Linked DNA regions of Homo sapiens. The gene in region 1 interacts genetically with each later gene. Each region holds a gene or a part of one and is shown in the gene's direction. Other genes may lie near its edges.

The links.
Region 2: changes in EP300 (region 1) and MBD1 together harm fitness more than expected from each alone (negative genetic interaction), as found in Homo sapiens cells (one large-scale study listed by BioGRID).
Region 3: changes in EP300 (region 1) and SEC24C together harm fitness less than expected from each alone (positive genetic interaction), as found in Homo sapiens cells (one large-scale study listed by BioGRID).
Region 4: of EP300 (region 1) and NEUROG1, changing one enhances a phenotype caused by changing the other (phenotypic enhancement), as found in Homo sapiens cells (one study listed by BioGRID).

What each region holds. Positions count from the first base shown.
Region 1 is NC_000022.11:41,151,592-41,155,091, forward strand, and holds part of EP300 (histone acetyltransferase p300), read left to right. Parts: intron 1-241; coding exon 242-421; intron 422-614; coding exon 615-759; intron 760-3,403; coding exon 3,404-3,500. UniProt on the Homo sapiens protein: Functions as a histone acetyltransferase and regulates transcription via chromatin remodeling. Acetylates all four core histones in nucleosomes. Histone acetylation gives an epigenetic tag for transcriptional activation.
Region 2 is NC_000018.10:50,275,024-50,278,523, reverse strand, and holds part of MBD1 (methyl-CpG-binding domain protein 1), read left to right. Parts: intron 1-1,319; coding exon 1,320-1,434; intron 1,435-1,525; coding exon 1,526-1,692; intron 1,693-1,779; coding exon 1,780-1,862; intron 1,863-2,105; coding exon 2,106-2,146; intron 2,147-2,542; coding exon 2,543-2,689; intron 2,690-2,795; coding exon 2,796-2,924; intron 2,925-3,079; coding exon of another isoform or gene 3,080-3,154; intron 3,155-3,278; coding exon 3,279-3,395; intron 3,396-3,478; coding exon 3,479-3,500. UniProt on the Homo sapiens protein: Transcriptional repressor that binds CpG islands in promoters where the DNA is methylated at position 5 of cytosine within CpG dinucleotides. Binding is abolished by the presence of 7-mG that is produced by DNA damage by methylmethanesulfonate (MMS).
Region 3 is NC_000010.11:73,747,372-73,750,871, forward strand, and holds part of SEC24C (protein transport protein Sec24C), read left to right. Parts: intron 1-3,500. UniProt on the Homo sapiens protein: Component of the coat protein complex II (COPII) which promotes the formation of transport vesicles from the endoplasmic reticulum (ER).
Region 4 is NC_000005.10:135,533,782-135,537,404, reverse strand, and holds NEUROG1 (neurogenin-1), read left to right. Parts: upstream 1-1,440; 5' UTR 1,441-1,714; coding exon 1,715-2,428; 3' UTR 2,429-3,123; downstream 3,124-3,623. UniProt on the Homo sapiens protein: Acts as a transcriptional regulator. Involved in the initiation of neuronal differentiation. Activates transcription by binding to the E box (5'-CANNTG-3').

The sequences.
Region 1 (3,500 bases):
GAAATAGTTGCTGGTTCTTTGATGTACAATCAGCCAACCAGTATTTACAAGTCTTAATTCTCCTGTTCTTAAGCATAATTAAGGGAGGTGAAATGGGCAGAGCAAATGAAAGCACCATGAATAAATATAAGCCAAGAAATAGGTGGCTAATTCTGCTATCCTGTTGCTTACCTTACATTCTGATTGTATCGTTGGCAGACTCTGCGTGTGTCTCACCTACTTCCCTTTTTTTTCTGCCCAGCTTTCCCAGCCAGCTGTAAGCATTGAAGGACAGGTATCAAATCCTCCATCTACTAGTAGCACAGAAGTGAATTCTCAGGCCATTGCTGAGAAGCAGCCTTCCCAGGAAGTGAAGATGGAGGCCAAAATGGAAGTGGATCAACCAGAACCAGCAGATACTCAGCCGGAGGATATTTCAGAGGTGAGAGTAGGGCAATTACTGTTTGATTTGGTTAGGACCTCAGTATAGGAACCCAAGTTTTAAAAAATATTGCAGAAAAATATTTTGATAATTAGATCTCATGGCATAGATTTTGCATGAGAAAGGGTGTTCAGATTACTGATTCCCAACTAGATATCTTTGGAATACTAAAAATTCTTACGTTTTCTTTTAGTCTAAAGTGGAAGACTGTAAAATGGAATCTACCGAAACAGAAGAGAGAAGCACTGAGTTAAAAACTGAAATAAAAGAGGAGGAAGACCAGCCAAGTACTTCAGCTACCCAGTCATCTCCGGCTCCAGGACAGTCAAAGAAAAAGAGTGAGTCTCTGAAGCCATTCGTTCTGGAGGTAGCTGAAGAAACCAAAGACCCAGGGCAGAATTGCGGTCATGCCTCTTGGGCCTCAGAAGTTGCCATTATTGTGATTTCATTAACCTGGAAGCCCTGGGCCTGGTCTCTTCATTGTTACTAATAATTTTTCTTTCTTTTTTTTTTTTTTAATATTCACTTGCAGCAACCAATGAGTTAAGTCATTCCCCTCATTTCTTCAGGGTTCCCTGTGTTAGTACACCCTAAAAATTGTCTCATTTTTCAGGAGAGAGAAATGTTTGTAAATAGCCTTGACTAAAATGCAGGAAAGAATAGCAATAGTAATAGCATTTGTCATTCACCTGCTGTGTGCTAAGTATCCACATTGTCTCATTTAATAATTTCTTTCTTTCTTTTTCTTTTCTTTTTTGTTTGGAATCGGATTCTCACTTTTGTTGTTCAGGCTGGAGTGCAGTGGCGGGATCTGAGCTCACTGCAACCTCCACCTCCCAGGTTCAAGCGATTCTCCTGCCTCAGCCTCCCGAGTATCTGGGACTGCATGCGCATGCCACCATGCCCGTCTAATTTTTGTATTTTTAGTAGAGACAGGATTTCACCGTGTTGGCCAGGATGGTCTCGATCTCTTGACCTGGTGATCCACCCGCTTCGAGCTCCCAAAGTGCTGGGATTACAGGCATGAGCTACCACACCCGGCCTCATTTAATAATTTCACAACAGCTCTGAGGTTATTGGCCTGAAGCTTAGCAAAGTTAAGTAACTTTCCACAGGTTACTCAGCTGACCCTACTGCCTGGGCCAGGAAGCAGACCCAGGCAGTCTGAGGCAGAGTGCTCAAATCCAGCCATTCCAACAAGTGTTAATTGACTATTTTAGGACTAGAACTTTTGTGGCTCTAGTGATCTGCAAAAGGCACCAGGTAGGACATACCTGAGGAGTGAGTCTGCTGGCTCTTACAGATGATATATATTGAAAAGTGTTCCATTAATACAATGTGTTGTAAAATGTTGGGATTAAAAAATTATTTTCATTTTAAAAATAAGACTTGTATATATTGAGGTGTTTTAATATGGGCTGTAACAAACCCAGTCTTACTATTGGCAATCTCTCTTTAAAATGTGTGTTCCCTCATGCCTGTAATCCCACCGCTTTGGGAGGCCGAGCGGGCAGATCACTTGAGGTCAGGAGTTCAAGACCAGCCTGGCCAATATGGTGAAACTCTGTCTCTACTAAAAGTACAAAAGTTAGCCGGGTGTGGTGGCTCTCACCCGTAGTCCCATCTACTTGGGAGGCTGAGGCAGAAGAATCACTTGAACCCGGGAGATGGAAGGAGGTTGCAGTGAGCCAAGATGGCGCCACTGCACTCCAGCCTGAGTGACAGAGAGTAATTGTCTCAAACAAATAAATAAAATAAAATGTCTAATTTCACAAGTTTATTCAAATAGTCCTTATTTTTAGCACAGCTAAATATGAGTGACAAGCATCTTCGTAGTCTGGTTTCCCCCCACTCCATGGCAACCCCCCAGAGGTGAAAATTATCTGAAGTAACAAATATACTCTACCGATGATGAAATTTTTTTTGCCAATTAAGAAAAAATAAGGCCCTTGCTGAAATTGAAAGCTTTTTAAATCACTGGCTTCTCAAAGAACTGTTTGATTCCATTTGGGACACACCAACAAATTTTTCCGGACTTTTTGGGAAATATCATTGAGAACACATTTGAACTTAATTTGATCAACTAAGTCTATTATTTTAGCAATACCATTTTTGTTCTCTCTTCTTTTAAACTTAAACCTAACATTTGTCATTAAAATAGTACATGTCTCTTTTTCTTTGGCTCTAAAATACCAAGCATTTGAACGAAGGAGTCTTCTCTTCTGTGCCCCTGACTCCTTGTAGTATAAGACAATACCTGATCTAGTCTAGTTTCTGACTTGTTAAATACTGATGTCATGAAGAAAGACTTTTCTGTTCTTGCTTGACTGCATCTCCCTCTTAACACGAGTATCTTGTGCACTCTTTTTTTTTTTTTTTTTTTTTTTGAGATGGGGCCTCATTCTGTTGCCTAGGCTGGAGTGCAGTGGCGCCATCTCGGCTCACTGCAACATCTGCCTCCCGAGTTCAAGCAGTTCTCTTGCCTCAAGCCTCCTGAGTAGCTGAGACTAGCATGCCACCATGTCCGACTAATTTTTTATATTTTTAGTAGAGACGAGGTTTCACCATGTTGGCCAGGCTGAAACTTCTGACCTCAAAGTGATCTGCCCACCTCAGCCTCCACCGTGCCTGGTCCCATGGACTCTTATTTGGCAAAGTCTCTTCATAAATTTTTAGAAGCCTTTGGATTCTGCTTCTAATTGACCGAGTCTGTCTTCACTGACTTTGTGACTGAAAAGTTAAGCTGAGGGTGAAGAGTGTTTTAAGGTGATAAGACACAATGTTTTTTAGGAGCTGTCTGAAACAAAGCGGGGCTTAGAATCTAGAATCAGTGATTGAGCCTGTAGTGATATTTCCATGGGGACAGAGTGGTTAATTTTGTTATTGATTCTTGAGATGCTTTTAGAGCTTCAGGCTGAATGATTTTTTAAAGTTCTTCTGCTTAATTGGTAACTAATTTCAAATGCACTTTTTTTTTTTAAGTTTTCAAACCAGAAGAACTACGACAGGCACTGATGCCAACTTTGGAGGCACTTTACCGTCAGGATCCAGAATCCCTTCCCTTTCGTCAACCTGTGGA
Region 2 (3,500 bases), on another chromosome or scaffold:
TAAAACTTTCAAAACTTAAAAGTGCAGTTGTCAAGAACTATAAAGAACCTGAGATTTCATTCTTAGGACAAGATAATAGTGAATTTGTCAGAATTTTGTAGATGCTGGTAGGAGGGGTAAGACTCCTGGGTTACAGATCAAAGACAGTTTATTACAACAGTTGCAGGATCCAGAATACAGTAGTCTCCCCCTTATCTGCAATTTCATTTTCCACAGCTTTAGTTACCTACAGTCAACCACCATCCAAAAATATTAAATGGAAAATTTTAGAAATAAACAATTCATTAGTTTTGAATTGTGTGCCGTTTTGAGTAGCGTGATGAAATCTCACACCATCCCGCTCAGTCCTGCTCAAGAGGTGAATCATCTCTTTGTCCATATCCGTATCCATATCCATGTTCTAGACACAACCTGCCTGTTAGTCACACAGTAACCATCTCAGTTATCAGATAGAAAAAACACAGTACATATTACATTAGGGTTTGGTACTATCCACGGTTTCAGGCATCCACTGGGGAACTTGGGATGTATCCCCTGCACGAGAGGGGGAATTACTGTATTACTATTTTTGTGCCAGTTTCTGAATCCCAATTCCTACAGCATGACGTGAAGAGGGTTGTATTATTATAGGAAAAGAACCGTGAGCTTAGAGAATCAGGTTTTTTTTAAATAATATTAAGACAGTAAGTATGCTTTCCCTTTGGAAAAAGTATACTTTCCCTTCCTCCTATGGAAGGAGACCCTATCTCTTATCTTCCAAGGTTGTTTGCTTTACAAACATCCTTGGAAAGATAGTTTATCAAAAAGGACAATCGTTGTCTCTCTTGCAGGGCATACAAAAATGCAAGAAACCCATGGGGGTCCCAAAATCAATTACTTATACTTTAATTTGTATGTAGTTGCATTTGTTTATATGTTTTTAAAACATATTTGTGTTTTCTTTACTTGATATATACTTGGTACATAATGCTAACATTTATATGTTATATTTGTGTTATATATATATAACACAAATATAATATATTTGTGTTCCTATTTGTGTTTATTTTTACTTACATGAAATAGTTCCAGTATTACTAGTATTATATGTTGTAAATATGTTCATCTGTTTACATTTATATTGTTTCTAATGTTTCTATATGTGTTGGTATTTATATTAATTTTTTTATGTTTTCAAGGTTAGTTGAGGTGGGGGCTGGGCAGGGCTCACAAGCCAATTCCAGGCTGCCTCCTATATCCTGCCAGCCCTGTCAAAAGGTTGTATGAGTGAAATGGCATTGGCTCCACCTGGGTGCTAACCCATCATGGCCCATCCCTAGCCCCACAGGAGACAGGATCCGAAGCAAAGTTGAGCTGACTCGATACCTGGGCCCTGCGTGTGATCTCACCCTCTTCGACTTCAAACAAGGCATCTTGTGCTATCCAGCCCCCAAGGTACTTCACAACATGAGATACCTAGGTAGGGGTGGATGTGCCACCCAACACCCAACCACTGACCCATATTCCTCCTTCCCTTACTTTCCAGGCCCATCCCGTGGCGGTTGCCAGCAAGAAGCGAAAGAAGCCTTCAAGGCCAGCCAAGACTCGGAAACGTCAGGTTGGACCCCAGAGTGGTGAGGTCAGGAAGGAGGCCCCGAGGGATGAGACCAAGGCTGACACTGACACAGCCCCAGCTTCATTCCCTGCTCCTGGGTGAGTGTTGGTCTAAGGTGAGCCAGATGGGTGAGGGTTGTGATTGGGGGTGCTCTTGGAGCCCCACACCTGCCTTTCCCATCCCAGGTGCTGTGAGAACTGTGGAATCAGCTTCTCAGGGGATGGCACCCAAAGGCAGCGGCTCAAAACGTTGTGCAAAGACTGTCGAGGTGAGTGGCCTCCAGAGGATGGGGCATCGGGAGATAGGAGCTGGAGCAGGTCCAGTGTCATGCTAGGCTGGGGTTTGAATGTGGATGTCAGGACAGAGGCTACTGGCATGGTTGGAGGTTGGATATTGGAGATAGCAGGCATAGGTAGAGGTTGAATAGTGGAAGTCAGGGCACAGGCAGTGAGTGAAGTCAGATGTCTGTTGCTTCCTTTCCACTTTTCTTCTTCCCTCTTCCTCCCCACAGCACAGAGAATTGCCTTCAACCGGGAACAGAGAATGTTTAAGGTAAGCACAACCTGCTTCCTCTTCACAACTCTGCAGTGGGAGCAGGATGTGATGGAGCTGGTAGAGTCTGAAGGGATGATGATGGGTCCACAGGATGAAGAGTCATTTTATAGGGTGCTCTCCATAGGTCAGCAGACACAATAATGGGAATTAATGGGGTAATTAATCCCCATTACCATTAGTGCATCAGTAGACACAGTGATGAAGTGAACAGGGGACCAGTAGACATACTAATGGCCTCAGTGATGGTGACTAACCAGACCTTCTCAGATACGGTGATGAGGCTAATGGGGGACTAAAATTCATGGTGATGCCAGCTGATGTAGGGTCAGTAGACATGGGAGGACCAGTGCTTCTGGAGCAGGCCCGTGATCTCGTCCCTACCATTCCTGGCAGCGTGTGGGCTGTGGGGAGTGTGCAGCCTGCCAGGTAACAGAAGACTGTGGGGCCTGCTCCACCTGCCTCCTGCAGCTGCCCCATGATGTGGCATCGGGGCTGTTCTGCAAGTGTGAACGGAGACGCTGCCTCCGGATTGTGGAAAGGGTGAGTTGGGCAAGTGGAAAGAGCCCAAGGCTCACCTCGGCCCCTGGCCCCCATGGGCTTGGCCCCATGCTTCATGCCTCTGCTCCCACCTGCCCCCCGCCAACAGAGCCGAGGGTGTGGAGTATGCCGGGGCTGTCAGACCCAAGAGGATTGTGGCCATTGCCCCATCTGCCTTCGCCCTCCCCGCCCTGGTCTCAGGCGCCAGTGGAAATGTGTCCAGCGACGTTGCCTACGGGTGAGTTGGGCTGGAGGGAGCAGAGCTCATTCTGCTGTTAAAATCGTCGCTGCCTCTGCTTCCTTTCAACCTGGCCTTGCCTACCTCATGTCTTTCTTTTCTGCCTAACCCTATGCTCGCCTTTCTGGCCCCGCCTACCTGCCTCTGTCTGCCAGCACCTTGCTCACCGCCTGCGTCGCCGTCATCAGAGATGTCAGCGACGCACTCCCCTGGCTGTGGCTCCCCCAACTGTGAGTGCCTCACGCCACCCTCTGTCTGCCTGTCCCATGCATGCTTTCTGCACTTAGGGTGTGGGGAGTTTCTGTGTCTGCCTGGTGCCACCAAGCTGAAACCACCCTTTCTGATCTTTCCCAGGGTAAACATGCCCGCCGCAAGGGAGGCTGTGACTCCAAGATGGCTGCCAGGCGGCGCCCCGGAGCCCAGCCACTGCCTCCACCACCCCCATCACAGTCCCCAGAGCCCACAGAGCCGGTGAGGCCCCAGTGGGTGGAGGGAAGGCACAACCCTGACCTTACCCAGTACCTGCCCTGACCCCACCCCATTTGCCTCTACAGCACCCCAGAGCCCTGGCCCCCT
Region 3 (3,500 bases), on another chromosome or scaffold:
TTTGAGATAGAGTCTCTCTCTGTCGCCCAGGCTGGAGTGCAGTGGCACCCTCTTGGCTGCAACCTCCACCTTCCAGGTTCAAGCAGTTCTCTGCCTCAGCCTCCTGAGTAGCTAGGATTACAGGCATCCACCACCACACCAGCTAATTTTTTTGTCTTTTTAGTAGAGATGGGGGTTTCACCATCTTGGCCAGGCTGGTCTTGAACTCCTGACCTTGTGATCTGCCCGCCTCAGCCTCCCAAAGTGCTGGGATTATAGGCGTGAGCTACCGTGCCTGGCCTGTATTTTTTTTTTTTTTTTTTTTTGAGACAGAGTTTTACTCTTGTTGCCCAGGCTGTAGTGCAGTGGCACGATCTCGGCTCACCACAACCTCCATCTCCTGGGTTCAAGTGATTCTCCTGCCTCAGCCTCCCGAATAACTGGGATTACAGGCATGCACCACCATACCCTGCTAATTTTGTATCTTTAGTAGAGATGGGGTTTCTCCATGTTGGTCAGGCTGGTCTTGAACTCCCAACCTCAAGTGATCCACCCACCTCGGACTCCCAAAATGCTGAGATTACAGGCGTGAGCCACCACACCTGGCCACTGTTTGTATTTTTAGTAGAGATGGGGTTTTACCAGTGGCCAGGAAGGTCTTGAAGAACTGCTGACCTCAAATGATCCACCAGCCTTGGCCTCCCAAAATGCTGGGATTACAGGCTTCAGCCACCACGCCCGGCCCCTTCCCTGTTTTTTTATTTTATTTTACTTATTTTATTATTTATTTATTTATTTATTTTTTGAGACAGTCTCGCTCTGTTGCCCAGGCTGGAGTGCAGTGGCACAATCTCGGCTCACTGCAACCTCCGCCTCCCAGATTCAAGCAATTCTCCTGCCTCAGCCTCCAGAGTAGCTGTGATTACAGGCTCCCGCCACCATGCCCGGCATTTTTTGTATTTTTAGTAGAGACAGTGTTACACCATGTTGGCCAGGCTGGTCTCGAACTCCTGACCTCAAATGATTCACCCATCTCGGCTTCCCAAAGTGCTGACATTACAGGCATGAGCCACCACCTCTGGCCTTATTTTTAATATTTTTTGAGATGGAATTTTGCTCTTGTTACCCAGGCTGGAGTGCAATGGCACAATCTCAGCTTACTGTAACCTCCGCCTCCCAGGTTCAAGTGATTCTCCTGCCTCAGCCTCCCAAGTAGCTGGGATTACAGGCATGTGCCACCACACCCGGCTAATGTTTTGTATTTTTATTAGAGATGGGGTTTCACCATGTTGGCCAGGCTGGTCTCAAACTCCTGGCCTCAGGTGATCCACCCGCCTCAGCCTCCCAAATGCTGGGATTACAGGTGTGAGCCACCGTACCTGGCCTTATTTTTTTTCTTTTTTATTTTTGAGCTGGAGTTTGGCTCTTGTTACCCAGGCTGGAGTGCAATGGCACAATCTCAGCTCACTGCAACCTCTGCCTCCCAGGTTCAAGTGATTCTCGTGCCTCAGCCTCCTGAGTAGCTGGGATACAGGCACCCACCACCACACCTGGCTAATTTTTTGTATTTTTAGTAGAGATGGGATTTTGCCATGTTGGCCAGGCTGGTCTCGAACTCCTGACCTCAGGTGATCCACTTGCCTCGGCCTCTCAAAGTGCTAGGATTACAAACGTAAGCCACCACGCCCAGCTGTCTTCCCTGTTTTTAGATAAGGTACTGTGTTTCTGCCTTAAGCCATCTAGTGGGAACACATCTCCCAGGTTCACTGACTGTTCACTTCCTGTGGGTATCACCTTGTGCAGCCTTACCTGGTCACATTGTTCAGAGCTAAATGGAAGGGTTGTGGTCCACACCCCTCTAGATCCTGTGACCAGGACCGAATATTTCCTGTTGACTTGTAGTCTCCTTGAAATAATTTATTCGTCATATATGTTGAGAAAGCCTCTTGTTGGACTGATGATTCTTATGTATGAATGACCCTGGGACAGTGTAGTTTATGGGGGTGAAAAGTGTGATATTTGTGTGCCTGACTTTTGGTGCGTCTCATGTCTTCTGATATCCATCCTTTTCCTTTGCTTGAGTTTCCTCTGCTTCTTAGATGCTCTGTAATGTCATGGTAATAAGATAATACTAATCTGATGCTGTTCTAGGTTCAGTGTTTGGCTTTTAACCTTACCTTTTCTTTTTCTTTTTTTTTTTTTTTCTTTTTGGAGACAGAGTCTTACTCTGTCACCCAGGCTGGAGTGCAGTGGCACGATCTTGGCTCATTGTAACCTCTGTCTCCCGGGTTCAAGCAGTTCTCCTGTCTCAGCCTCCCGAATAGCTGGGATTACAGGCACATGCCACCACGCCCGGCTAATTTTTATATTTTTAGTAGAGACAGGGTTTCACCATGTTGGCCAGGCTGGTCTCGAACTCCTGACTTCGTGATCCACCTGCCTTGGCCTCCCAAAGTGCTGGGATTACAGGCGTGAGCCACCACGTCCAGCCTTACCTTACTTTCTCAAGAAGAGCAGCTAGTACTCTACCGATTCTCCAGAGGGGCTTTTTGGAAATAGTTAACAGTAGATCTTTGCTTAGGCTAGCCGATGATTTAGGGTATGCCAAACTCTATGCTTTCATAAAGAGATATGGAAAAAAGAAGGCATCAAGGAGGTACTGGTAAGATTTGGGAAATAATGAAGTATGATGATTTTAACTGTGGGGAAAAAATATTGTGATGAGATTAGGCCCCAGGTCTTTGGAAGAACCTTAATTCTAAGCTGAGACTTTGGCTGGACAGAGTCCACCTCTGCTTTGTCAAGTGCTCGAGTTTGGCATTCTCTCATGAGAAAGCTTTGTTAGAGGAAAACATATCTGATTCTGTCATGGTTGGTGAGCAAGTTTAGGCTAATCATGTTCCTGTAGGCAGGTTCTATAATGTCTAATCTCTACTGAGGGCAGAGCAAAAGAAAAGCATTCTTTGAACAGAGGTCATCCACATTTCAAAAGTGATGTGCCAAGTAACTAATTGCTTTCTCCCTGAACTTCATATGTGAAGAATGGCTAAGGGTAGTGTAAGTAGCTTTGGTGGTGGTTCTAAGGAATAGGAAGGATGGAGTACAGCTTTTGTGAGGACATAGGTGGCAATGCTGATGGGAGGACAGGCCAGCTGTCCTTACTGAACTGTTGGGCAGAAACAAGGTCTCCGATCTATAGGAACACGTTCCTGAATCGTGCTGTTTCATGTTTTCACACTTAGAAGTGGATGAAAGGATATAGTTAGTGTAAGCAGAATGAATGAAGAAGAAGGTGGCAGAATAATCTCCCCAAGAGATGCCTTTCTTTGCAGCCTAGTTCCGTATATTACTTGGTCATCTTCTGAGTCTCCTTTTTCATATATGCTCCAAGTTTCTGAGTTCTGGAGTAAGATCTTTTCCTTAAAAGGGTTGGCTTGTTGTCTAGGGTAAGAATATCAGGCAGTCTTGGATTGACTGAGAGTATGGTGATCAAAGGAAGGCCCTACATTCTTGTGCCTCTG
Region 4 (3,623 bases), on another chromosome or scaffold:
CAACCCAAAGAGTCAGCTAGGCTCCCATGGCAGCAGGCCAGGCATCCGGCCTGAGGCTACCACTTGGATATCAGGTGGGGGGCAGGCACTTTGCTGAAAGCTGCTCATTTTGTTTTTAATACCCTCATCCTATAATCGAGTGCTGTTCCTTACTATTTATCCTCCAAGTACAAAGTTGGGTGATGTCTGGGCCCCTGTGGCTCCTGGGTGAGTGTAGGTGACAAGAGAAAAGTAACTCCTGACATGCAGAGGGAAGACCTGCTGGAATAGGCGAGTTTAAGACACCGAAGGCGGGAGGGGGTTTGGAGGAAAGGGGTTCCACTGTCACCTGCTGCCCTCCAGGGGCCAGCTCTCTCTCGGGCCAGGGGAGCTGGATCCCCTGGCTGGCTCACCCTGAAGAGGGCCACAGAGGCTGCAAGCAGGGCTCCAAGAGACGGTGTGCAACGGATTTCTCCGGGCATGGGGCAGGCAAGGTTTCAGGAACGCCAAAGAAAAGGAAATTCTCATATTAATAATTATATTCTCATATTATTATTTATATAAATTCTCATATTATTAATTCTTATTAAGAATCTTGAGGTGACTTGTGGGCAGAGGTGCGGAGGAGGGTGGAGAAGGGAAGGGAAAGAAGGGAAGGGTGAGACCAAGACTCAAGGCAACCTGGGAAATCACCCGATCCTCTTTTCCACTCTCCTCTTCGCACTCCCCAGATGAAGGTCAGATTCTTTCCCGTTTCTTCATCAGCCTGAACGGAGCAGCGACACTTATCCTTGCCCTGCGCCCTGTGCCTCTGGCATGGCCACTCTCCAGTCTATTTGAAAATGATTTTCACCCTGTTCAGCGGATGCTGCACATTTAGTGTTCCACAAACATTATATCTGATCATCCTCCACAGGGTAAACTTTTGTCTCATCTTACAGGTGGGGAAAGCAATGCTCAGGGAAGTTAAATTACTCGTCCAAAGTCACGCGACCACTAAGCAGCTGGAGAGGGGATGCGAACCCAAACTCCAAGTACCCTCCAGGTTTCCGCAACTCACTGGGCGGCTCACACTTTCGCGCTCGCGCCCCGCCTCCCCGTCCCACCCCAGCGAGGGGCGCCCAGCCCGCCCCAAGAGGAGCGTGCCTCGGCCGCTAATCGCCCGCCGACCCCGCCTCTGTTTCACTGCCTGGAGACGCCCTGGCCAGCTTAGCCCGAGCCGACTCCCGGGGCCGCGCGACGCCGCCGATTGGCCGGCGGTAATTACGGGCACACTCCGGGTTGGGGGAGGGGCGATGGCGGCCTCCCGCGAGCATAAATTATGCAAATACCCGGGCGCTGCACGGGGATGACCTGCCGCCTCGCTCCATTCACCCGGGCTGCCGCGGGGGCGGAGGTGGCAAGGGAGGGGGGCGCCCATTGTTGCGCCGGGTACTTAAGGGGTCCTGAGGCCAGTCGTGTGCCACACTCGGTGCTCACACGAGCTGATCTGATCGCCGGCGACATCACTCAGGAGACCGGCCGGGCGCGTGGCCCCTGCAGGCGAGGCGAGGAGGCCAGGCCAAGTTCTCCGTGCGCCCCTGCACCCTTCCAGGCTCTCGCACCCGCAACTGGCACAGAGTAACAACCCCAGGCTGTTGGGAACGTAAGTGCGCCCTGGCGGCTCTGCCCTCAGTCCGGGCTGCAGCGCTCTGAGCGCCTTTCTATCTGTCCGTCGGTCCTGCACAGCGCAACGATGCCAGCCCGCCTTGAGACCTGCATCTCCGACCTCGACTGCGCCAGCAGCAGCGGCAGTGACCTATCCGGCTTCCTCACCGACGAGGAAGACTGTGCCAGACTCCAACAGGCAGCCTCCGCTTCGGGGCCGCCCGCGCCGGCCCGCAGGGGCGCGCCCAATATCTCCCGGGCGTCTGAGGTTCCAGGGGCACAGGACGACGAGCAGGAGAGGCGGCGGCGCCGCGGCCGGACGCGGGTCCGCTCCGAGGCGCTGCTGCACTCGCTGCGCAGGAGCCGGCGCGTCAAGGCCAACGATCGCGAGCGCAACCGCATGCACAACTTGAACGCGGCCCTGGACGCACTGCGCAGCGTGCTGCCCTCGTTCCCCGACGACACCAAGCTCACCAAAATCGAGACGCTGCGCTTCGCCTACAACTACATCTGGGCTCTGGCCGAGACACTGCGCCTGGCGGATCAAGGGCTGCCCGGAGGCGGTGCCCGGGAGCGCCTCCTGCCGCCGCAGTGCGTCCCCTGCCTGCCCGGTCCCCCAAGCCCCGCCAGCGACGCGGAGTCCTGGGGCTCAGGTGCCGCCGCCGCCTCCCCGCTCTCTGACCCCAGTAGCCCAGCCGCCTCCGAAGACTTCACCTACCGCCCCGGCGACCCTGTTTTCTCCTTCCCAAGCCTGCCCAAAGACTTGCTCCACACAACGCCCTGTTTCATTCCTTACCACTAGGCCCTTTGTAGACACTGTTACTTTCCCCCTCCCCTAGTCAGCAGGCAATAGATGGGGCCCCAGCTGCCGCCTCGGGACCCCCTCTCCAGGCGGAGGGAGGAAGCGGGAGCTTTAAAGCAGTCGGGGATACCTGAGCCGCTTGTTAGGTCGCCGCACCCTCGCGGCGGATGTCTCTTGGTCTGTTTCTCCGGCCCTCAGCCCAGCGCCCCTCCTGCCCGCCCCTAGACGGCCTTTCCTTTTGCACTTTCTGAACTCCACAAAACCTCCTTTGTGACTGGCTCAGAACTGACCCCAGCCACCACTTCAGTGTGATTTAGAAAAGGGACAGATCAGCCCCTGAAGACGAGGTGAAAAGTCAATTTTACAATTTGTAGAACTCTAATGAAGAAAAACGAGCATGAAAATTCGGTTTGAGCCGGCTGACAATACAATGAAAAGGCTTAAAAAGCAGAGACAAGGAGTGGGCTTCATGCATTATGGATCCCGACCCCCACCACTGCAGACTCGCTCTAGGAAGAACTGGAGACTCTTGCTTAGCTATTCAGGCACAGGGCTGGAGAGTACTTTAATTTATTCAAGATGCTTCATTCATATGAAAATGTATTTTTGTACATAAAGAGTTTATTCTATTATGAGCTATCAAAGTTTACATTTTTGTACTGCAGACGCTTCATGTAAATAAAAACTAAAAATAAGTCGCCAAGTTTCTTGCCTAATATTAGTGTCTCTGGGGCTTTTCTTGCTTTTCCCTGCTGGCTCAACCACTAAAGTGAAACACTATCCCACTCACCTCCAAAGCCTCTGTTCCTGTTTCAAAAACAATTAAAAAATAAAACGCACCTGATTTCCACCAAGAAATGGATAAAGACAGACTAGGGCATTTGGGATCTATCATTCCTTTCACCTTGTAAACACAAGGGAGATCTTTCAGGCTCCCCATAAGCCAATTAAGACTTTTTAGTAGGGAATTAGCCCCGGATCCGCAGCTACCTGTTGAGGTAGGGGCAGTGGGAGAGTCTTTCTTTTGAGGAACTCCACATCAGCTGGCTCTGTGTTTCAAAGAGAGGGGATTAAAAAGATCAATACAGTGTGACCACTGGTTAGGAAGTCCCAGTGACAGGTGGGCCTAGGCTAGGCAAGCAGAAGGGTCCACTCTTATAACAGCCTATTTAGAGGGGGAAATTAATTTGTAAAC